Linked DNA regions of Homo sapiens: all the other regions are linked to region 3. Evidence: fine-mapped expression QTL. A gene starts in region 3. Each other region holds a variant in brackets. All regions are shown on one strand. Distances are between the middles of the regions.

Region 1 (8,185 bases), 53 kb before region 3:
TGGAGCTTAGACCCCATCCTGCAGGAAGACAGCTGCCCCAGCAGAGGGAGGATGAAAATTATGGCTTTTCCTCTGACTCACTGTGCGACCATGGAAAATTCCTGATTACAAAACATGGAAGAGTCAAAGCTTTTCCCTTGAGAAACATCTCCTGTGTCTCCCACCCTTCTACTCACCCACGTATCTCAAACTGTCTCCTTGGGCAGTATGGAGAGCTGGGACCTCCACAACTGTGAGAGGGGAGCAAGCTACAGACAGCTGGGGTCACTTACTTGGCTGGGAGCCTAGCTTTGGTCGTGGGTGACTGTGTTGGATAATGTAAGTCCAGCTGCTATAACAGATAAACCTTCAAATATTAGTGGCTCACACAATGGAAATTTCTTACGCATGGAAAAGTCCATTAGTGCTGGAGGGTGGGGTAGGCTGTGGGCTGTGGGGGATGGTACTTTCCTATGTGTAGTCTTTTTTTTTTTTTTTTCAGACAGGGTCTTGCTCTGTCCCCCAGGCTGGAGTACAGTGGCACGATCTTGGCTCACAACAACCTATGCTTCCCGGGTTTAAGTGATCCTCATTCCTCAGCCTACCGAGTAGCTGGGATTATAGGCATGAGCCACCATGCTCGGCCTCTGTGTAGCCTTTTGAGGACCCAAGCTGAGAGATGTTGTGTCCTTTCAACATGGGGTTTTCATGGATGCCCTTGGTCTAGATATCCAGCTGACATATAGAGGAAGAGTGTAGAATCACACATGAGATTTTTATCATCCAGGTCCAGAAATGGAGCACACAATTTCTGCTCAGATTCTAGTGCCAGATCTTAGGCACATGGTCACTGCAAGAAAGGCTGGGAAGTGTTGTCTAGCTGTGTGCCCAGGAGGAAAGGTAAAAGATTTTCATGCATAAACTAGCCAGTCTCTGCCTCAGTGGCCAAAGTCCACTTCTCAGCTTGGCTGGTATTAATGTCAAGACCCTGCTATGTCAAGCACAGGTGCTTTTCTTCCAGGAATTGGGAGTCTTGAAGTCAGATGATGAGTTGTACCTGCTTCTAGGAGAGTCTCTTTAGTTTGAAGAGGCCAGTGGCAGAGACATTGAGAATAGGGTTCAGTCTTCTGGGCATTACTTGGAAGAACCAGGCAGTGTTGCAGGATAGGAAGGTCACAGCCAAATGATCTGGGCCCAAACAGGTTCTGATCCTGGGATAAGCCAGAGAGATCTCAGCAACTCCAAGGCAGAAACTAGGTCATGATTCCTTGGCTAATAAAATCAACTGAGAGAGAAGCTGTAGTCTGGGCTCTGGATAAGTGCTCAGGGACAAATGATCTGGATGTGATGTGTACAGTCAAATTCTAGGCCATACCACCTGACGGAGGGGAATCTCTGTGCTCTGCCAGACTTGGTGGAACTAAGCCTCCACTTTCTTCAACTGTTTGGGGTTGAGGAATGCAGAGTCATACACACCTGTTTTCTTTTTCCTTGAATCTGGTAGACATAGTGGTTGAGTCCCTAAGCCAGAAGTCAGAGAGATCTCAGGAACTTTGTGGCCTGTTCCACCACAGATCTAAACCTGTCTTGGTAATTCCATCACATTTGCTTGGTGAGGTAACTTGGCAACCCGTGAGCCATGAGCCCCAGGTGAATCTGTAATTCTATGATTGTTAAGGAAGTGTGGCTCTACCAGTCCCCTGGTAGATCCCTGGAATTGCTCTACATCTATAAGTAACATCTCCCTTAGGTGGGGCATTTACCCGCACAGGATGTGAAGATGCATTAGATTTGACCATCTCAGCTCAGTGAATCCAAGTAACCATAGATCTTTGGCAGATTTTCTTCCCTGTCATGGTGTCAGGGGCCCAGGGAGCAGGACTGATACAACTCAGTTTCCCTTGCCGGGGCAGAAGTGAGAGGAAGGGTCTAAAGCTGTGGGAATGGCAGTCAGCTGTCCCCTTCCCTTCAGCTTCAGGAAATATGAGGCCAGAAGAGGGAAAGTTCAGAAACTGTGCAGGCACTCATGGCACTGCAGAATTTCAGCCTCACTGCTAAATCTGGGAGGGACAAGAAGCAGGCAAAGTTGGATTATGTGGCTAATAGCATAGAGCCAGGGAAACTAACTTGAGGGGCTTCAAATCTGCTAAAATTAGAATTTTCCTTTTAGATCTGTGCAGACTTTGTTCTTATTACAAAGTGGTGGACATTTTGGAACAACCAAGAAAATTTTATGTGCTCTTCACTTGCTACCAAAACTAGTACTAAAACAATACCTGCTTTTCACCCTCAGATACATCTGGGTCTTTAGTCCAGGAAAGAATCACCTCCAAGGTGAGTGTGAGTGGACAAGGATGTAGAGGATGCCCCCAGCCTTTTGGAGGAGTCTCTGTAGGATCAGGCCACCTGAATAGATGCCCTGAGTGCTCTGTTTATTACCTTTGTTCTTTTCAGTATCTGCATGGTGGGGCCCATAGTCTTTTTTCTCTCTGCAGAACAGTGAAAATTTCTCTGTCTTGCTCTGCCCAGGAGCAGGTAGGCCAGAAGTGCCAGAGAATTAACACTCACCATCTTCACCCCCTGCCCCGGCAGCAGCCTTCAACCAACTTGCCACTTGGAAATAAATACTTGTTCTCTTGCCCCTTGGATGGGATAATTCTGCAGCAGGTGCTGTTTCCCCAAGTTTTCCCACCAACATAACCTGACCATGGTAGCAGACTTAATAGTAACCTTATAGCTCCCTTCCCTTCCTTGTATTGCTTTCCTAGTTCCCGCTGATGATACTCCCTATTCTTCTCAAATTAACTGCTTGTGTGCAAATCCTTGCCTTAGGGCCTACTTCTATGACAAGGCTAACTAGGATGTCACTTTTCCAGAAAATAGCCTGGGCTGCATGAGGGAGTCATTCTGATACTTTAAAAATAATGTTTCCCCAGGCAGATGTTTTGGGATCATGATAACATTTACTCTCAACCTTCCTCCCAAGCTATTCTTGATAGACACATGGAAATTTTCAGAAAACCAAATACCTCATGTTCTCACTTATATGTAGGAGCTAAATGATGAGAACACATGGACACATAAAGGGGAACAACACACACTGAGGCCTTTTGGAGGGCAGGAGGTGGGAGGAGGAAGAGGATCAGGAAAAATGTACTAATGGGTACTAGGCTTAATACCAGGCTGATGAAATAACCTGTAAAACAAACCTCCATGACACAAGTTTACCAACGTAACAAACCTGCAGTTGTAACTGTGAACTTAAAATAAAAGTTAAAAAAAATTGCATTAGAACTTTCTTTTACTTTATTTGAGATCCAAAGAAAATTTATCTCCAAATAAATTGTGGTAGTGGTTTATATATTTTTCAAATATTATTTTTTACTAAGAAATATGCTTTACATTGCAACTCAGTATACATACTCTCATAAACATGAAATGTCTTATTAAACTCATCTGATTACCCTTGCTCTCTGTGATCTATATGTTTCTTTCTCCTCTCTTCTCTTTTATTCTTTTCCATTCTATTCAGTTATATTTTTGTTAATAAATGAAAGCCAATTTCACAATTCTAGAATAGGTGCTATGGTCAAAATGTTTGTGTCCCCCTCAGATTCATATGTTGAACTCCTAACCCCCAAGGTGATGATATTAGGAGGTGGGCACTTTGTGAGAAGATTAGTCATGAGGGTAGAACTCTCCTGAATGGGATTAGTGTCCTTATAAAAAAGGCCTTTCTTGTACCCCTTCCTACCACATGAGGACACAGCAGAAAGACCACCTTCTATGAAGAGGCCCATCGCCAGACACTGAATCTGCTGGTGCCTTGATCTTGGACTTCCCAGCCTCCAGAGCTGTGAGCAATGAAGGTCTGCTGTTTATAAGCCAACCAGCTTGTGATATTTTTGTTATAGTAGTTCAAACAGACTAAGACACTAGGTCAGCACTCACAGTTTGAGCAACACTAGATGAAGGAGACACATATTTCACAACAGGTCCGCCAAACAGGATTCTTAAGGAAAGAATGTTCAAAGAGGAGATTTGCAAAACTATTATTTGTTGTCCTTCACAGCTATCATTGCATAGGGCTGATAGCTATGCAGTGACCTTTGTTGTTAGCAACACAATTTATTACCATCCTCTGCTTCTAGAAGAAAGAAAAAAATCGATACATTGCGGGTACTAGGATGTTTAGGCCTCATGTGTGGATTTCTCCAGGTGTCCCCATTCCAGGGAGTAGAAATGCTGTGGGGTCAAATGGAGCAATGAGGTAATTAGAAGATGGGAGGATCTTGAAGGTTTGAAACAGCACTCCGGGGTTTGCACTTGCTGTTAAGAATGGCTCACGTATGTTTTGGTAGTCTGGGAAGACCAGGAGCAGGCTACGCATAAGCGGTGTGCGCACTACAATTTCACACATGTGTGGTTATCTGTAGCTGGCTCTATGGGTTCACCAGAGCCTTATTTGTTTGGCAGACTTAGAGGAAAGACAATGAAGGAATACACTGGACTCTAAGGTTCAGCCCTATATCTGACAAAAGGCAAGAGTTCAAACCTCTTGGCCATCTGGGGGAGAACTCTTCTGAAGAGAAAACAGTATTATTGTATTTTCAAGTAAATTATTTCATATCCTCTAACACTAATAAAGAAATGTGTGTTTGTGTTTTGGAGGACGTCTTAGCGGTGGATAGTTAACTTGTGAAATAGTCGGCTAGGGAATTCATACTTAGGGATCCTCAGCCAGCATTTGAACGACCCTAATCAGCTGTCCTATTATAGCTTTATCTCCAATGAACACAAAAAAGCCTGTTAGTTAGCATAGGGGATGCTAAAATAAGTTTCCATGGATGAAACGAGTGGTGATTAAGATATGTGAATATGCTGGAAATATTATGTAAGCAATTCCTTCCTTCTGTAAACAACAGGGAGTAAGAATCTGGAGAGAGCTCCACAGCCTACCCTCTTCATAGGGCTCTTCTCGGACCAGGGCTTCATTCAATAGCTCAACAGAGAATCCTGTGGCTCAACTTCTGATCAGAAGTTTAGCTGAAACTTTCACCAGAATACTGATACATCTGCTTTGAGTGGCCGTTTCG[C/T]GCATGCTGTTGCCTGGGATTTCACTGCTCTTATTGTGTCAGGTTAGCTAGTTGATTTGAGTATTTGAACATGTGGCATCTTTGGTCAAATGTGCTTTCAATATAACTCATCACCCAGTAATGAGATTGTTGGGGAGGAGGATTATAGTTCTCACCTGTTCCTAGCTGCTGGTGGTGATCAATATCTGCCAGAGTAACTTAAAACTCGTGAACAGCCAAATTTGCTTAAGTCAGGTCTATTCACTTGATCTGAGGTAATTGCTTGAGGGTTAGTTAAGGAGAAACACTGGTTTTTGAACACAACCCTGTGAGTGTAACTGGACTTGTCTCCTACTCAGCCCTCGCAGTTCTATGGGGGTGGGGGCTGTGATAAAGGGTGAGTCACAAAGTCACACAGACCTCCCTATGGTCTGTGTAAAAAATGTGGCATGGAAGGCAGCCCTGCACAGTTATTAAGTGGGCAGGATGATTTTTCTTTCAAACACAGGATGTGAGTAATATTACATTTCTTTCCTTTCTCTAAATAAATTTAATATGCTCCAAGCCTCCAATCGGCCTCACTGGTGCGAAGGTCAAGCTTTGTCTGGATGGTTCTCCTCTTGGTGCCATGTGAATGCCCTGTTATTTGATCCCCAAAGATCATAGCTGACATGCTCAGTGTTCAAAGCTGTACTATTCTTTAAGGATGGAGGCTCTGCTGGTGCTGCCATTGTGGGGCACTAGGGTTATTGCCAAGTCTAGGAGCCCAGTGCTCATGTTCCAGCCTCTTTAGGAACACTAGGTGGCTGTTTCTTGCTGAGATCCCATCACATCTTAGGGCGCTGGAAGGGATCAGAGCACAGGCTCCTAGTGCTGTGGAGTCCCCCTACTTTGGTGTCTTATCAATCTTGGATGCTCTCCAAATTACTTTCTGGTCTTGCTTTTTCCATTCCTTCTATTTCTGAAAGAATCCCATATAATCACTCTTCAGGAAGTGATTTAGAAACACAATGTGAACTCTTCTCCTTGGAGTGGTGGCTGGAAAAATAACATGCCAACACTAGCTACAAACACAGTCCCTACAATGTAACCTACTTATGCTGACAGCCACATTCAGTGAGATAGGTGAGAGGAATCGTTGTAGAATTGTCACTGGAAACTGCCCAGTAAGCGAGATATGACCTTCTGAGATATGAAGTGGCAGAGAGAAAAAATGGAAATCTTCTTAGAGTGGAAGAAAATAATTTTTTGGGCACGTGTATGTCTTTAACTGTGCAAGAAAACATATATTCAATTATTTGTTAATAACAGCACCATTACTATGATAATAGTTATTTAAAATAATTTGAAGTAACGTATTTTAATAATAATCTGTATTTGCTTAGCATTAGATGTTTTCATGCCAGTTATCTCATTTGCTTTTGACAACATCCTGGTAAGGAGGCATGGCACATAGGATTTCCCCATTTTGCCACTAAGAAAAGTCAAGCACTTTGCATGTTAATTGAACCTCAAAGCCAATCAGTTAGTAGACAGTTGAGTGTAGCTAGTACCCAAGTCCATTGGTTTTCCACTTGACTACTCTGCCCTAAGCAGTAAGATGTGGAGTGAAAATATGGCTTATAGATGACTTAATCTTAAGTGGTTACTTTGAAGTACATCTTTCAAGTTAGCCATAAAAGACTTTCCTCACAATATCCAATGAATGACCGAATTGCTTTTCCTGTAGACTACCTATTTAAACTCAACTTGGCCAAGTAAATATTGCATGCTTGCAGCACTCTGCAGCTGAAAGCAGTTTGGCGGGAAGTAGGTTTGTGGAGGGATTAGGTATGTGTAGTCATTCATTCATTTATTCATTCATAAACATTAAAATAGCAACTACTGAAAGCCACACATCAGCCTAGATTCCAGTGCTACTCTTTTTTTTTTTTTTGAGATGGGGTCTCGCTCTGTTTCCCACACTGGAGTGCTGTGGTGCGATCATGGCTCACTAGCCTCGACCTCCCAGACCCGGGTGATCCTCCACAGGCCTGTGCCATCACACCTGGATAATTTACTTTTTTTTTTTTTGTAGAAACTGGGTCTTTCTACATTGCCCAGGCTGGTCTTGAAATCTTGGGCTCAAGTGATCCTCCCGTCTTGGCCTTCCAAAATGTTGGGATTATGGGCGTGAGCCACCACACTTGGCGTCCAGTGCTGCTCTGTCTGACATAGTAGCCATGAGCTACAAGGGGTGATTTTAATTGAAATTAAATCAGAAATGCATTTTTTCACCTCACTAGCCATATTTCAAGCACTCAATTGCCGCAAGTGGCCAATGGCTCTTATTGAATAGTGTTTACATAGACTCTTAAAGGAAGAACATTTCTTTAAGAACTTTCCTTTTCCTAGAACAGAAATAAAGCATTTCCCTTATTGCAGAAAGTTCTGTTGGATAGCAGAGCTGCAGAGTTATAAAGATACAAAGGACTAGACTTGGTCCCTCCATTTTGAGAACTTACAATTATTGCATGCCTATGACAGAACTTAGAATACATCATGGAAATTCTATAACAGGGTATCAGTTTTAGTTTAGCAGATTTTTATTATGCCAGTCACTATGCTAAATCCTATAGATACAATGAAAGCTAAAAATTGGTCTCTGAACCCCAGTAGTTTACAGTTCAGTGGAGATAAGAAAAAAGTGCCTCAAGGCCTTAGGGACCAGAGTAATTCTGCCTGGGAAAGTTACAAGAGGAAAACACAGTCATAAGTATTTCTTCTGCCTTCTCTACCAATGTACATGCCTTGTTTTTTTTTTTTTTGAACAACACAGAAAATACTTTAACAACTGTATCATGTAATAAGTAATTATTATAATTTTGCATTGGCATTCTCAAAGCACTGGGCTCCCTTTGCTCTATTTTATAAATGAGCCTGGACCATAGGATGAGAACTGTGACAACTTCTGAATTCACTTGGCAACATTAATCATAGGGCAGGCAATTAGACCTCATGCCAGTGATGTTTCTCAGTGCAGCCTCACTCCCTACCATGGGCAAAGTGAAGAAGACATTTAAATCTCCTAATGGTCCCACAGTTATAAGGGTGCCCAGTAGTGATCTTTTATTGAAACTTCTGGCAGCAGC
Region 2 (8,185 bases), 35 kb before region 3:
GGGGAAGTGGAGAGAGTTTGCATTGATGGTAAGTTGAGTAATGCACAACGTCTTGAGATTCATTATTACTAAAGCAACTGGCAGATCTGAGAATGAATATGAAAGTCAAATAAATGAATGGAGAGTCCTAAAGAAAAAAAATCTTGAATCTTAATGGTAAAATGGTTCTATCAGTTACTTGATAGAACCTAATCTGAGTCCATGGAGATTATTTAATATTTGTCAAATAATATAAATATTAGAGTTTATTTCAAAAAGTGTGTTTCTTTCCATCATTAAAATCTCTGTCTTGCAGTCTGTACATCAACTTATCACTTAGTCATTTTATGGTCTTGAAAGTCACTAAACTAAAATGTGACTGAATATATCCTATTATGAAACATTTTTTATGTCGTAAAAACTTATATGTAAATGCTTAAATAAAAGATTTTGTTAAATTTTTGGGAGCAGTTTTAATTTTATATTTTAGACTTAAAATGTTTTAATTTGCATTTTAATTGTCTCCCATATTGTTGACCATTACTTGTTCTCAGTAGAGACACAACTTGCTTTCTGTTTTGCGGGATTCCCTCTAACTATATGATTTGGTGCCATAGTTAAGCTCCTAGATTCTGGAGCCAGACTCCATGGGTTCATAATCCTGACTTAGTTACTAGCTGTGTGACTCTGAGCGAGTTATTTGACTCTTCTGTGCCTCGATTTCTTACTCTGTAAAATTGGAATGATAATGATAATACATACCATATAGGGTTATTGCAAATATTACATAAACTAATACATTTATAAAGGATACACTTGACATACGAAGTTGAATACAAGTTTTAACTATTACTTAACTTCTGCTAATATTTACTCCAGTTCTGCTCACATTACTTGCTTATTATACATTTCAGAGTGGATGAAATAATTCTGCAAGCCAGTGGGAACAGGAAGCTTCATGAAGAGGAGAAAGGCTTAGGGCTCAGAAACCGCACAGAGCAGGAGGATAGATGAATGTAAGGAACAGAGCTTTGAGGACAGACACCCCTGGATTAGACAATAGCTCCAAAACTTATTAATGATGGTGAATGGGTGACTTTCTAAAACCCTTTAAACCTTATTTGTAAAATGGGACCATCAATATCTATTTTGAAATCTTGTATAAATTTGCAATAATGTCTGTAAAGTATCTGACAGGAGCTCAGAAATGACACAATTCTTTAAATCCACTCACACCCAACTTTTAAACAAAAAGTAGCAGTATATCCTACACACGATTTTTAAATTTTACTATTTAAGTTAACATCATGCTATGAACATATTTCCATGTCATTAAATATTCTATTCCATCCAATATTTAAAAGCTAATAGAAGTCTGTTAAATGCATATGCCATAATTTATTTAACCAATTCGGTTGTTTTAATATTTATGTTGTTTCCAATATATTATGCTATTGACAATAAAATGATGAACATTTATGATGATGAACCTTGGTATTGCCTCTATTATTTTTATTTAGTAAGAGGAATTGCGGGATATATCATGTGTACATTTAATTGTCTTCCAAATGGTTTATACCAGTTACCCTCACAGATGCAATAAATGAGTGTGCCCACTCGCCTGCATCTTCACCAGCATGGACATTACTTTTGTTTACCGTCTCTGCAGACTTAAGTGAAAATGATGTCTCATTGCTTTAACTCTTACTACTTCTTTACTAATGAGTATAAGTTTTTGCATAATTGTTGTGTACTTCTTTTTGTGAACTATCTTGGCTTATTATTCATCTTTTTCTTAATTTATGAAAGCTCTGTTTATTTTTAGGTATATTATAATGCTATGCATTCAAATGCTTTCTGTTATCAGTCTTTATCATTTGTTTGTATTTGTTTCTACTGTTTTTGACATATAGAAGTTTGATATTTTGTGTGTTTATTGCCATGACCTTTTTATTTTATGATTTCAGCCTTCTGTGTTAAGAGTGTCTCTCTTTACTTCTCCCCTCCACCCAATGTTAAAAATATGGATTATAAATTAAAACATAGAATGCTTGACCATTAGCACCCACATCAGGGAAGGTATGAGACCTACCTTCCTTCCTTCCTTCCTTCCTTCCTTCCTTCCTTCCTTCCTTCCTTCCTCTTTCTTTCTCTTCCTTCCTCTTCCTTCCTTCCTCTTTCTCTTCCTTCCTCTTTCTTTCTCTCTTTTCTTTCTTTTTCTTTCTTTCTTTCTCTCTTTCTTTCTTCCTTTCTTTCTTTCTTTTCTTTCTTTCTTTTTCTTTCTTTCTTTCTTCCTTTCCTTTCTTTCCTTTCCTTTCTTTTCTTTTTTCTGATGGTCTCACTACGTTGTCAAGGCTGGTCTGAACTCCTGGCCTCAATTGATCCCCCAGTCTCAGCCTTGGGCTTCCAAACTGCTAGGACTACAGGCTAAATGTGTGATGTATGAAGCTATTTATTACCAATATGGAATAAAAGTTGTCCAAAGCCATATAGTTATTTTTGTAGATGGAACTGGAAGCTGTGATGATTGACTTTTTGTGTCAACTTGACTGGGTCATGGGGTGTCCATATGTTTGGTCACATATTATTCTGAACGTTTCTTTGAGGGTGCTTTTGGATAAGATTAACATTTAAACTGATAGACGGAGTAAGGCAGATTGCCCTCCCTAATCTGGGTGGGCCTCATCTAATCAGTTGAAGGCTTGCATAGAATAAGCTGACCCTGACCCTGACCACCAACTAAGAGAGAATTCCTTCTGCTTGACTGCCTTCAAACTGGAACATTGAATTTTTTTCCTGCCTTTGGACTTGGTCTAAAATAGCAGCTTTTCCTGGCTCTTGAGCCTGCTGATGTTGGACTGGAACTACATCATCAGCTCTCCTGGGTTCCCAGCTTGCTGACTCACCCTGCAGATTTGGGAACTTGTCAGCCTCCATAATCGTGTAAGCCAGTTCCTTGTAATAAAGCTCTTGCTCTGTATCTCTATCATCTCCATCTATCTCTATCTCTACCCCTGTCATCTCCATCTATATCTTTATCCCTCCATCTACCTCTTTCTCATCATCTCCATCTATCTCTATCTGTAGCTCCATCTCTATATATCTCTATTTCTATCTGTCTCTATATATCTCTATCTCTATCTCCATCTATCTCTATCTCTATTTCTATCTCTGTGTCTATCTGTCCCTATATATCTCTATCTCCATCTCTCTCTCTATATATATATTTTCATCTCTCTATCTCCATCTCCATGTCCATCTCTATCTCTATCTTCATCTCTCTATCTTTATCATCTCTATTCTATCTATCTATGTATCTATCATCTATCTATCATCTATCTATCATCTGTCTATCTATCTATCTATCTATCATCTATCTATCTATCATCTATCATCTATCTATCTATCTCCAACTATCTCCTATTGGTTTTGTTTCTCTGGAGAACCCTAATATAGGAGTCCTGAAGGTAAACTTAGCCAAGCAACAAACATAAATTGAGACTGCAATATACCTCTTTAAAACCCAGTTAAGGCATGGCAAAGTTGAAGGCATTGGCCCCGAATGCAAATTGTGTCTTTCGCTAAGTTAAGAGTATTAATATCCATCACACAAGCTTGCTGGGGGCTCAAATTAGATGACATATAAAACATTGGGCAAATTGCTAAAAAAACTTTGTTATTAATTATAACTTTTATCTGAAGCAACTCATAAATGGTGATGACCTTAGCAGAAATATCCTAAGTGACTTTGTAATAATTTTAAAGTGGGAGACCATTACCCCCCACAAACACATACAAACACATACACACACTATGCACATGCTCATTACATACAAATACATAGACATACACAGACTCTGACACATAAACACCTGTTTTGGGAAAAAATAATAAAGCTGACTGTTTAACCGTTAAACATTTTTATTGTGCAGGCTTGTAACCTTTACAGGACATGCATGATAAAAAATTGTAAAATATATCAGTAAGCATATAAAATTTCAGCAATCTTTTGGACCAGTAATTGATTTGCATGAGGGACTAAGCATCTATGTAGAACAGACATGTCTTGGAATACACAGTTTACAGATTGAATCACAAAGCCATTTCCTAAGTGATTTTCTTCATATAAAGATAAAAATATCTTTACATTTAAAAAGTATGCAGTATAGCACATTTTCAGTTATGTACACAGTTTAAAAGTAAAACTATATCCATGCCAGTGTCTGTTTTAAATGCAAAAAGTCAAAGTAGGTAACAGGTTGGTAATTAAAGTGTCAGGAAGACTGGAAGAGGCAAAAATCAAGCAGAGTTCCAATAAGTGTATGAAAAAAAAATCATAACTGAAGGTTTAAGAAAAGTCCCCAAAGGCAGAATCACAATATGAGCAGGAGGAATAAAAAGCTTTTGGATATACCAGGCAGCTTTCTGTACGACTCAGGTTTACAGGTGAAATTCCTCAGTTTGAGTTCAGAAGAATTTGAACTTATTCCAGCAAAATACTTCAATCTTTTTATTACTGCCTCCTCCCCCATCTTCTTTCTGGGCAAAG[G/A]GATGCTTGGATTAGGTCCAAAGCTCCTGGCAGGGGGAGGGGCCATGTGTCACAGCATAACAGACGGTTGCAAGTGCTTTACTGAGCAGGGGTCAGGTTTGCAGCAACTCTGATAGGCTCACACAATGGCCTCCATTTTACAGCCCCTCCTTGGAGGCCCACTGATCAGCTGAAATGGGAACACAATGTTGAGCCACTAAACCACCCCGGTGATGGATTAGTTTGGATTCAGGAAAGCGTGATTATTCTTGAAAATAAACGAAGCTGAATAGACATGCTGACCTCATTCAGTTGATGAGAGGCAGGGAAAGCTGGCTTCCAGGACTGCCAGCCCACAGAGAGCTCAGCCCTATTGGTCCACTTTAATTCATTTCATTGGGCTAGTGTCAACCATACCCACTACGGATAAAGATGTTGCCAGATGAAGCCCAGAAGTGAGCTTCACCAGACTCTGTAGCTCAGAGTCAGAAACACGCATGGAAAACTAGGTCATGGATATTCTAATTTTGGTCTTCAGGGAGGCTGCTGACCTAAAGCGAGTTGCTGAGTTAGACCCTATTTGAAAAGGAAAATGTGAAAAACAGGAAGGCACTGAGGTCTTGTTATCTACATAACAAATATTCAGGCACAGAAAATATCATAGGTTAAAATTTCAAGAAGAGTAAGGCATTAGTTGGATCATGAGAAGGCAGAAGATTATGTTTTCTAACTTGTAAGGATCACTGGATCCTACTGGATTATGAAGTGAATGGCAGTAATCCACTAACTCCTTAAACAGTGGGAAAAGAGTTTGCTGAAAATCTGCCCACATACTTGTACACTCCATGGCCATACCCTGGAATTCTTCCCTTAACATAAAATGACCAACATTTTGGAGTAGGCAGTTGAGGTTGTTGGTTCTTTTCTTTTTTTTTTTTTTCCTCCTCAGTTCTTCATATTTCTCTCAAATTACCTTTCAACAATATGTTCATATCTCAGCCAATAAAGCGATGGTTGATCCACATGCAAATAAAAAGGTAAGGAAAAAAATTTAAATGGGTTTTAAAAATTCAGACTGCCAAAAATAGATGAAATAGCTCAGAAGAGACATAATACTTATGAAAACTGAGAAAGTGATCTTTTTATTTTCAACCAAGATAATTCAATTCATAAATTGTTGCTGTATTAGCAACTTGGAACTTGAAATTGGCACCAGGAAAATTAAAAGGAAAAAAAATCAGGTATACTTCTATCCTTGAAATGTCATTTATATTTCTTTCTGCAAGTTGATGCGGACATTGCTGAATATTTTCCCAACAGCTTCAAAGAGTGGGTCACAGACGGTGTGGACGTAGATGGAATAGACACGGCTGATGCACTGAATCTCAATCAGGAAGCTCTTAATGCATGGTACAACTGCCCAGATGTGCAGGAAAGAGAGAATGGCGAAGTAAATGCCCCAGATGAGTGCCATCGGGATGCCAAAGAGGGCAGACAGCAAGCGGTAAAACCAGTATTTCGTCACAGTGAAGGTGGTGAAGCTGGCCTTCCAAATGCCGTCAAAACTGTGTGTCCCTTCTGGTTCTGCAATCACATCTTCAAAGTCAATCTAAAAGGAAGAAGTGACACAACATGAGCACAGAATAGAAGAAAAGAGAAAAAAAACCCACTATTCAGTATCCATAGACATATACTGTATTAGCATTTATGAGTTCGTTCTTTGTGAGATGCTTAAAGGCAACCAGCAGCATCAGCATCACTTGGAACTTGGGAACACAGATTTTTTTCATTTTTATTTTTTTGAGACAGGGTCTTGCTCTGTCACCCAGGCTGGAGTGCAGTGGCATGATCATGGCTCACTGCAGCTTCGACTTCCCAGGCTCAAGCAATCTGTCTGCCTCAGCCTCTTAAGTAGCTGGGACCACAGGTTCATGCCACCACACTTGGCTAATCCTTTTTTTTTTTTTTTTTAAGAGATGGAGTCTCACGATATTGCCCAGGCTGGTCTTGAACGCCTGAGATCAAGGAATCCACCCACCTTGGCCTTCTGAGGAGTTGGTATAATAGGATGAGCCAATAAGCTGACCTGAAACACAGATATTTGGGTTCCCCTTGGACCTTATTATCTCTCAAGGGTGGAACCCAGGATATTTTTAAACATGTTCTCTAGGTGTTTCTCTACCACACAAAAGGTTGAGAACTACAGCTCTAGAGAAAACCAAATGGATGTGATTAAATTTCTTGACTTAAAGTAAAACCCCCAAACATGGATAAGGATACGAGGCACTCAGTACAATGTAAGGAACATGACATAATTTAACTGCCTTTGAAGACAACTACACATGCAATGTTAAGGGGCAGTTAGTTGATAATCGGTTAACAATTCTTCAAATGCCCAATTAGCATAATTACTTCAGGAAATTAGATCATGGTGTGCTGGGAGGCATCAAGAAGGCTTCATGAGGTGGGAGATTTGAGCAGGGCTTGGGCAATTGGCTGATTTGGAGAGGAAGAACAATGGGACGTTGGAAATGTGTCAAAGCCCCAGGAACAAGCAAGGGTGTCATAGTAAGTGTCTCAGGCAGAATAGACCTGTGTCACCGAGGCTGGAAAGACAGGTTGAGGCCAGACTGAATATTATTTTACAGACAGTGGGGTCTATGGAAGATGTGGGAGCAGGGGAGTGTAGCCACAATCGATGCAGTAGTTTATCAAGATGAGTTTGACAACCGTATGCACACTGGGAGAAGGAGGAAAGAGACTCAAGGCAGGGAGACTGTTGCTGTCACTCAAGTTTGAAGGGCCAGGACTGGAAAGGTGGTCATAAAAAAAAGAAAAGAAAAGAAGGTTCCAGAGATGCTAAGGGAAGAATCCACAGGACTTGGTTAGCTCAAGGGTGGGGATGAAAGGAGCTGGAATGCAAATTTGGCCCCTTTCCCAATAGCTCTCCCAGGTACATGTTCACCCAAACAATTAATTACAGGAAGTTTTATCCCTCTGTAAAGATTTATATAAACTACACTGAAGCACAGGATTAAAAACAGAATTACCAACAGAAAGGTAGGACAGAGCCAGTGCAACTGCTTGGCAGTGACAGCTATAGGAGGGGATTTAATGCAGTTTGAAATCCCAACAAGTGGATGACTGACAGCAGCGACTCAGGCAGGCTCAGGATTAGGGAATGAGGACTGCCATGACTCCACGGAGCTACTCAGTGCCAAAGAGCCACCTTTGATTCAACAAAATAAAATGTCTTCTGGAAAAAGCACATGATGCTTACCAATTTTTAAAGTTTATTTTGTAGAACATTCTGTTTCTTGACTTATTGTCCAATGTTCTAATAATGTAATGTGAAAAAAACGGCATGGCCACAATTATGTAAGTGAGCTTAAGTAGATGTATTGTCACTCATTTTTCTTCACCCATTTGGATCTAGACACAGGGTAAACATTTAGTTGTGTGTTTTAAAAGGTGGCAAATACATGGCAAATCAGGTCAATACTTTTATGAAGTTTCTGTGCAAATTATTTGTCTATTATGGGTTTGTGTTCTGACACTGCATTCTTCCCAAAACTATCAAAAATAAGGGGCTCTGGTTTTCCTGCATTCAACTGCAAGACACCTAAAGAATTTTATTTTTTAAAGATGTCTTTGTTTTGTAAGAGGATTTGAAGGCAG
Region 3 (8,185 bases):
CTAATCTAGCATATTGCATGGGTTTAATAAATAAATTAATTGATGGCTAATTTTATCAGAATTATAGATTTGAAGCCATTTTATTTATCTAGAAAATCAAAATAAGTACATAATAAACATGTGAATAACAATGTGAACAAAAGATGACACAGAAATCTCAGAGGGAGAATGAAGGGTTTGAGTTTGTGACCACTTTAATTAAAGGAAATTTTAAAAAGTATTCACAAGCTACTTAATATTTTTGGGTAAATGTCTATATTTGGGTAAATTGTCTCATAATGTGGAGCAGCAAGCTTTTAGTAAGATGAGAAATTAATTTTATTGGAACTGGATTGTATACTATAATGTGTGTCATTATTACTAGTAAAATAGGTAATAATGCTGCACCTTCTTGAATATAAACTCATGCCACACATGAGTTTTCTTTCCTCTCCAGAAATGAAACTGGGGTTTCATTTCTTCTCTAGAGTTTTGTTGTTGTTTTCTTTAACTTGGCAAGGGGATGCTTTTACAATGCAGAGAACACCCTAATCTGGCACTGTCCAATAGAGATTTCTGTGCTGATGGAAATGTTCTATGTCTGTGCCACTAGCTTTACCTGTTGCACACTCACAACGTGGCTAGTGTGACTAAGGAACTGAATTTTAAATTTTACTTGATATTAATTACTTGAAATTTAAATGGAAACACAAATGGCTAGTGATTACCATATTGGACAGAGCAGCTTTTACAGGGCTGCTTGCTTTTAGGACCAACTTTTCCTTACTTGATTGGGTACCTTTAACAGTAGATTCCATTGGCCACTGGTTCTTTCTTATTATGTGAAGTTTTAAGCTACCATGCATTAGCAGTAAAGCTTTGGGTGCTTTTAAGAAGCACCCAAAATTATTGTCATGATTTTTTTAAGAAGTCTGTGTTGTTGGCCAGGTGTAGTGGCTCACATCTGTAATCCCAACACTTTGGGAGGCCAAGACCAGTGGATCACTTGAGGTCAGGAGTTCAAGACCAGCCTGGCCAACATGGTGAAACCCCGTCTCCACTAAAAATACAAATATTAACCCGGCATGGTGGCGTGCACTTGTAGTCCCAGCTACTCAGGAGGCTGAGACAGAAGAATTGCTTGAACCTGGGAGGTGGAGGTTGCAGTGATCCCAGATCATGCCACTGCACTCCAGCCTGGGTGACAGAGTGAGACTCCGTCTCAAAAAATAAATAAATAAATAAATAAAAATAAAAATAAAAAAAGTCTATGTTGTTGAAAGTAAAATTTAGGGAAATTTATTATTTACTGTCATGGAAACTGGGAGAGAATCATCCCTGTTTCTGTTATTTTGTTTGTGCTTGGACTTGAGGATACATATTTATAAAATAGGAGTCTCCATAAGATGTAGATAGGACCCTGTTCATCGGCCAGGCACTCTTTGGGCAGAATTTGCATTTGTAGTCTTGGTGTCTCTCTGTAGGGCATTCTCTGAAGTCCCCTCTAGGCCAGGCATCTGAGTGAGACTGCCAAATTCTTTTCTAGGTGGATTTTTTGGTTTGACTGTCTTGTTTTGCTCACAGTTCTATGAGCAAGTAGTCAGGGTTTGGTTTCTTTAGGCTAGCAGGAGCTTGCTCTAGCTTTTTCTTTTAATTTCTTTAATTTGAGGATCCCCACACTTGCTCTTTGAAATGCTGTTTTGTAAACTGCTATTTCCTCCAAGCCTGTTATGTTTTTTTTCCATCTGTGTTGAAGTCTCTTTTCCCAGTGGGGCCTTTCTTTCTCAACTTAGTCATGCTATGTGTGGAGACCCACATCCACACTGTTGGCCTCTCTGACTCATCCCGGGAGATTCGCTTGCTCCAGGGAATCTCACTCACAGTGCAGTGGAACAACAGGGAGGATCCAGTGAAGCCAGCCCTCTCTGAAATCTGCCTCTTTTCCTGGCAACTCTCCTTCTTGTTCAAAGCCACATGAGAAGGGTGGGGGTGGGGGAAAACACAAATATCCTCTCCCTTTAAGGTAATGTTTTTAGTAAATAGTTTTTTAGCAATTCTATTTTCTAGTTTATAAGGTACTTTTGTTGCTGTTGCTTTTAAATATTCCATAATCCAGCTAGTCAAAAAAAGCTGCAAATGCTCCAATTTTCCTTTTTCCTACTCCAGGAAGCCAAGGGAGTCAATTCTGACAGTTTTTTTTTCCCTTCCAGTTACAGATTAAACTGTTTCCCCTTTTGAAATATATTATTCATGAATGTAAACGGTTTGTGAACTATAGCTCCTCCCATCCATAGATAGCAGGCGTGGTGGGTGGAAATTGCTCATCCGCCTCATTGATTGCTGGGGGTTGTATAGGAGTAGATCTTCACACTGCAGTCCCTGAGCCAGGATTTTTCCTTAGCCCTCCATTTCTCAGAGAAAACCCTTTGCCAAGGATGGCTCTAGCCCATGATATCCCAATCCAGATGTGTTTAGGCAATAAATTCCTCCCACTAGATTGGCTAAAAGGGTCAAAATCTAATAACAATGATAATTTAAAACTGACCACTGAGTCAGATCTAAGTCTGGCCAATAACCCAGTCCAATTATTTTTAATCTCACCAAGCACATCCTGAAAGTATGAAAAGGAACTCCAACCTGAATGTGCCATTAGCTCAGGGCAGGCTGACCCAGGTAGCTACTAAAGAAGCAGCTTTCCACATCTAAGTGCAGGTGTCCATAGATAGAAGAAACCAAGAGGCATACATTGTTTTTGGTTTTGTAAATTTGCTTAGTTGTGCACAAGTGACTTGTTAGTCTAGTTAAAGTAACTTTCATATGTATATGAATAAGTACGTATTTTCTTTGTCTTTAGTCCTAGGCATTTCCATCCACTGTAGTATTTTTAAGAAAATCACTTCCCATCGTTTTAGTTGGGGGAACATGCCCATCTTGTATTCTGACTCATCCTCAGCACAAGACCTGACACAATTATCTGACTGTCTTAATGCCACGTGCAGTGGGGACCTGTCACTAGACTTTCAACCTGGGAATGGATAGGAACCATCTCACCGTCCCAAGGAGTATGGGCCGTCTGTTGCTGAGGTCAATAGGCTCATTTGCTAGGATAAAAGTGTAGTTATAGGAACTTCTACAAAACTCACTTTAGCTGAATTTCAGCTGAACTAACTATTGGGGGGAGATGGGGGAAGGGAGATGTAACGTTTCTGCCGACTGCGGGAGCTCCCACACATCAAACCCACAAAACTCTGTGTGTGTGTGTGTGTGCGCGTGTAGGGGGCGGGGTGGGGTGTGCGTACACGGCAATGCTAAAGAAGGATGCACGGGCTAACTGCCAGAGGAGAGCTGTCCCAGCCCTTCCCTGTTGGTCGCCTTGGCTTACCTTGACCACGTCATCGTTGAGGTGTTTAGGGTCGCGGTTGACCAGGTCGATCTCCTTGGTGTGCGCGTCGTACACTTGCTTCTCGCTCAGCTCGTCTGCCATGGCCTTGTTGTTGGGCTTGTAGATGTTGCCCTGTTCCCGGATGGGAACGGTGTAGAGATGTCCCTGCAGAGGGCGGAGGGCGGACGGCCAGGACGGGGAGGGCGGCAACGGCGGTGGGAGGAAAAATGCAAAAAGAAAAACAAGCGATGAGAAGTCAGCCTGGCGGCGGGGGAAACCTCGAGCTCGAAATCGAACTAACCGCTCCGACAGCTACGGCTCCGTGCACAGAAACCGCCTGCGCGTAGCCAGCTTTTTAAGAGGATCTCGCAGAGGACACCACACCCCTCTGTACTCTGCAGGGCGCGCCTGCCTCCCCCGCCCGCCGCCAGGGGTCAGGGCAGGCCCCGCCGCGCGGTCCGAAGGCCCCCGCCCGCGCACGCCCCGGCTCAGCACGCAGGACCCGCAGGACCCGCAGGACCTCGGCGGCGAGGGGGCAGCCGCAGGCTTCTCCCGGACTCCCTAAGCCGAGTCGCTCTCGCCCTGAGCGCTTCACCTGTTTCGCGTTCCCGTCCCCGGTCCCTATTACCCCTGCCCCGGTAATCCCTTCCAGCTTTATCTAAGATCCAACAGCAGCCGCCCGACCCGTGGAATGTTCCCTTTATCGCTGCTTCTTGGCCGCATCCCCCTCGCACCTGCCCGCGCCCCCCACCCTGCCTCGGCCCTCTCTTGTCCCTCCACGGCTCTCCCTGCTCAATCCGCCGTGATGATCACAATCCCGAAAGTCCCCATTTTTGGCGGAGCCAGGCACCAGACCCCCTAAATGTCCTAGAACTCAGTCTCACCTGCGCAGCTCCCCCGACCCACCCTCAGGGCACTCCCAGGCTGCGGGCGGGTGGCTGAAGGGCAGCTACGTGTTGGAAGACGAGGTTTCCACACCCGGGCAGAGCTCCAGCGCGTGGAGGGCGTTGGAAGTGATGGTGGCAGTTTGGGGAGGGGAGGTCTACCTCTCTCGGAACACCCCTGCCAGACGCCAAGATGCAGAAGGAGTTCTTGAGATGGTTCAAGAACTTTGGAAAGTGCAAACACACCGCGCGCCGCCTGCGGGACCTGCCGGTCTGGGCGCCTGGCGGAGAGTCCCGGGGACTGTCCCCAGGACTCGGGTAAATAACACCTCCACCCTGCACTCCACCTCTTCGAACCCCCAGCAGGCAGGGCCGGACCGCGGGGGTCCCGCGACAAGGGAGCATCCTAGACCCATCCAGAAAACGCGTCCTGGGCCCAACAGACCCAATCTCAGGACCCCAATCCCCTTTTCCGTGTCCTCCTAGCTCAGGGGCTCCCTAGGCCCCCTCTCCATTAGGAAAACATAAAACATTCCTGGCTTCTCTTCACCTCCCCGCCCAGGCCCATTCCTCAGCGGTGCCAACGCCAGAGGAGTGCTCCGAAGTGGAGAGAGGGCTGGGGCCAGGGCAGCAGTCGGGATATTTGGAGAGGCAGATAGCAGAAGCGGACACTCCCCGCACGCCCGAGCCGGCGCCCCCCCACGGATGCCTACCTCCGAGTCTACGTATTTGCCCCCAGACATGCTGGCCCGTGGCTGGATGAAAACTGTGAGGAGGTTTCCCTGGGCTGTGCTTTAAGGGAACTGAGGAAGGAAGATCTTGTATTGTATGGGGGGAAAAAAAGGCGCTGGAGGGGGGCGGTGGCTGGGAGGGAGCCTCCTGGCCGCCCGCCAAAGGTTTGTTCTGCTCGCGGTTGGCCCGGACGTGTGCTGCGCCGGGTCTAGGCACATCCCCAAGGTTCTGGCAGCAGAGGGCGGGGAGCGCCCGCAGCGAGCAGAGAGCGAGTGAGAACGTTTCTCCCGCGCTGGGGTGCTTGGGCAGATTATTTTAAACCTGAGGCAACATTTTCCCTGCTCTGAACCACCGAGAGGCGTCCCGGGGAGAGCGAATGTTTTCGCAGTGCATCATCTCAGCAGGGGTGGAGGGAGCCGACGCGCCTGCAGAGATGCCCAGTATGGGCAACCAAGGCGGCAGAAACAATCCACAATCCTGCCCTGTCCTAAGCCGTCCCTTCCCACCTCCCCCACCCCCCGCCCATCGCCCAAGTTCCATCTCTGCCTTAAAACACATGTGTCTCCCTGTTTCACAGAGGGAGGGATGAAAGACGGCTAGGAACCTTTAGGTACATTTCACATCTAAACTTTGTGGATCCCTTATGGAAGGAATCTGTGTGGGTGCCTGTGGTGTACTTTTGGTGACACTCGTTTACATCTAGTCGGTGTGGATGGAAACTTAAGCAGGCATGCAGAATTTAACATTTCCCATCCGTTTCTGAAATGTCTCCCAAACGCTTCGAAATAAGAAATGAAGATCTTTAACTTTTCTATAATTTTATTACCGATATTTTCTGGAACAATGGAATTTTATGCCAACAGGTTATGCCATATTTGCAAAATACACAAAATGTTTATAATTGTAGAATTATTTAAAGCTTCAAGTTTATTACCAGAGAAGATTTTTTTTTAATGTGCTTGGCTGTGAGGAAAGATTTGACTTTTCTAATTGACTAGACTTAAAAAAAATGTGATAGCGATTAAAGTATTTTGTCTGTTCCTGAATCTGGGGCTTCTGTCTTTACTTTATTGTAAAGAAGCACAAAATGAATTAAATAGTAATCAGTCATTTTACTCTTGAGCTGTAATTAATCAGGAAACTCATTATCCAAAAATGAAAGGACATGTTACTTATGCTTCCATATGCAGTCAAAAGTCAAAGTATCACTTGAAATTATTTTAAAAAAAAAGCTGGAGTACACTTGAAGGGGCACAGGTTAAAATTAAAATGGAGAGGGGAATGTGGGTTGGGAGTAAGAGGGAGGAGAAAGGGAAATGGATGGAATGCTGAAAGAGTTGATTATTTAGTTAGAGAGAAGACACAAAAGTATAAAAGAACTATAAAGGACAGGCTATTGTTGGTAGCAAAAATTTTTGGAACAAAAGATCAGTTTTAACTAAGAATGGCAGGGAAAGTGTCACAATGTTACAAATGTTGGCATGCCTGTAATTATGTTGGCCATTCATGATTAGCAGACTAAAGATCTTTCAAAAGTTGGATTTTCCCAAATACCACATTAGTGGGAGCTAAATGATGAGAACTCATGGAAACAAATAGGGAAAAAACAGGCACTGGGGCCCACTTGAGGGGTGGAGCGTCGGGGAGGGAGAGGAGCAGAAAAATAACTATTGGGGAGTAGGCTTTGTAGCTGGGTGATGAAATAATCTGTACAACGAATCCCTGTGACACAAAATTTAACAAACCTGCACATGTACTCTTGAACCTAAAATAAAAGTTAAAAAATTTGGAATGCTTTAAAATAAGCTTATTTATGAGTAAACAAATAATTAGGGTCTTCCTTCCTTCCTTCCTTCCTTCCTTCCTTCCTTTCTTTTCTTTCTTTCTTTCTTTCTTTCTTTCTTTCTTTCTTTCTTTCTTTCTTTCCTTCCTTCCTTCCTTCCTTCCTTCCTTCCTTCCTTCCTTCCTTCCTTCCTTCCTTCCTTCCTTCTTTCCTTCCTTCCTTCCTTTTCTTTTTTTCTTTTCTTTCTGACAGGGTGTCCTCTGTCACCCAAGCTGGAATGCAGTGGTGCATTCATAGGTCACTGCAGCCTGGACCTCTTGGGCCCAAGTGATCCACTTCAGTTTCCTGATAGAATGCTGAAACTATAGGTGTGCACCACCACACCCTGCTAATATTTTTAAAAAGTGTTTGTAGAGACGGGGGTCTCACTCTGTTACCCTGTCTGGTCTCAAACTCCTGGCCTCAAGCAATCCTCTTGCCCTAGTCTCCTAATGTGTTGGGATTACAGGCGTGAGCCACTACAACTGGCCAAAAAGTTGCGTTTTCTTAATTTCATTTCTGTCAGATTGCATTTCTAAATTCTTTGAACAAATTATATTAACAAATATTAACAAACACAATACACTAGAAAAGGACTGTCAGGTTCAATATGTTCTATAGTACCTAGCCCACCTCTAATGACTGCCATAAATTCATTTAATTTTTCCTTCATACAAGTCAACTGGGGTTACGTTCTATGGAAAAATGTGGAAACCACTTCCCATCTATTGTTATTCAGTCTTCAGCTGTGATGAGTAATGTTAACTGTGAAAAAAGTCAACAGGAACACAGAGGGAGCTTGTCCTGCATTCCAGCAAGAAAAGGACTTTCCAGGGAGGCCTTTAAGTGAACGCTTAACTAGTACTCAACCGAGGGAAAGCAATCTCGCTGGGAAAGTCCATGTAGAAAAGTCTAATCAACAGCAACACATGGAATCATAATGATCAGTGAAGCGTTGTCAATGCCAAAATGCATTCCTAATGAGAGGAAAAACCACAATCTCTTCATTAACCTGCCTCAACAAGAAGCTGGCACCAAAGAGAAACACATCTTAGTCTGGTTATAATAGCTGACTTAGGGAAACTGCTCTCGATTTATGAGAAATAAAAGGAGAAGAAGAACATTGTTAGCATAGGTACAAAATTGGAAATGAATAGATGATATAAGCAAAATTGTTTTTGTTTGATTCTCACACAGGTAACTTTGGGCTTGGAGGCGAGTTAATAACTTTCTCCAAATCATTTACTTAAAAAATGAGTATTTGGCAATTCATTTGCCCTCTAATATTTTTCTTTTTTGGAAGCAGCATTAAAGGTCATCCCATGGATTAGAGGGCACTAGAAATACAGATCTAAAAGCCACTCAGGCGAACCAAACCAACCATCT

Which allele goes with the higher level. Positions count from the first base shown, and alleles are read on the strand shown. Sizes are in standard deviations (SD) of each study's normalised expression. Not every link is listed here.
For the expression in lymphoblastoid cells of the gene that starts at base 5,015 in region 3, C is the low allele of the variant in region 1 and T is the other (moderate effect, 0.48 SD a copy in GEUVADIS).

Evidence for each region. PIP is the estimated chance that this variant, and not a neighbour inherited with it, causes the effect.
Region 1: its variant is the best candidate, but not a certain one, in a credible set for the expression of CAV1 in lymphoblastoid cells (GEUVADIS, PIP 0.67).
Region 2: its variant is the best candidate, but not a certain one, in a credible set for the expression of CAV1 in subcutaneous fat (TwinsUK, PIP 0.84).

What each region holds. Positions count from the first base shown.
Region 1 is chr7:116,574,494-116,582,678 of GRCh38, reverse strand. The region is part of intron 2 of COMETT (cytosolic oncogenic antisense to MET transcript); the gene reads left to right. Among named protein-coding and RNA genes, the nearest start is that of CAV1, 54 kb to the right of the region's middle. RefSeq lists silencers at 1,099-1,548, 5,072-5,211 and an enhancer at 5,350-5,644. The variant C/T (reference allele first, on the strand shown) is at 5,076.
Region 2 is chr7:116,556,877-116,565,061 of GRCh38, reverse strand. CAV1 (caveolin 1) reads right to left here. Exons shown (of 3, transcript NM_001753.5): 3 at 3,883-6,116. The coding sequence ends at 5,775. COMETT (cytosolic oncogenic antisense to MET transcript) reads left to right here. Exons shown (of 5, transcript NR_165033.1): 5 at 894-1,468. Among named protein-coding and RNA genes, the nearest start is that of CAV1, 36 kb to the right of the region's middle. The variant G/A (reference allele first, on the strand shown) is at 4,529.
Region 3 is chr7:116,521,866-116,530,050 of GRCh38, reverse strand. CAV1 (caveolin 1) reads right to left here and starts at 5,015. Exons shown (of 3, transcript NM_001753.5): 1 at 4,959-5,015; 2 at 3,362-3,526. The coding sequence starts at 4,988. RefSeq lists silencers at 3,314-3,413, 3,644-4,033, 6,442-6,736 and an enhancer at 6,662-7,302.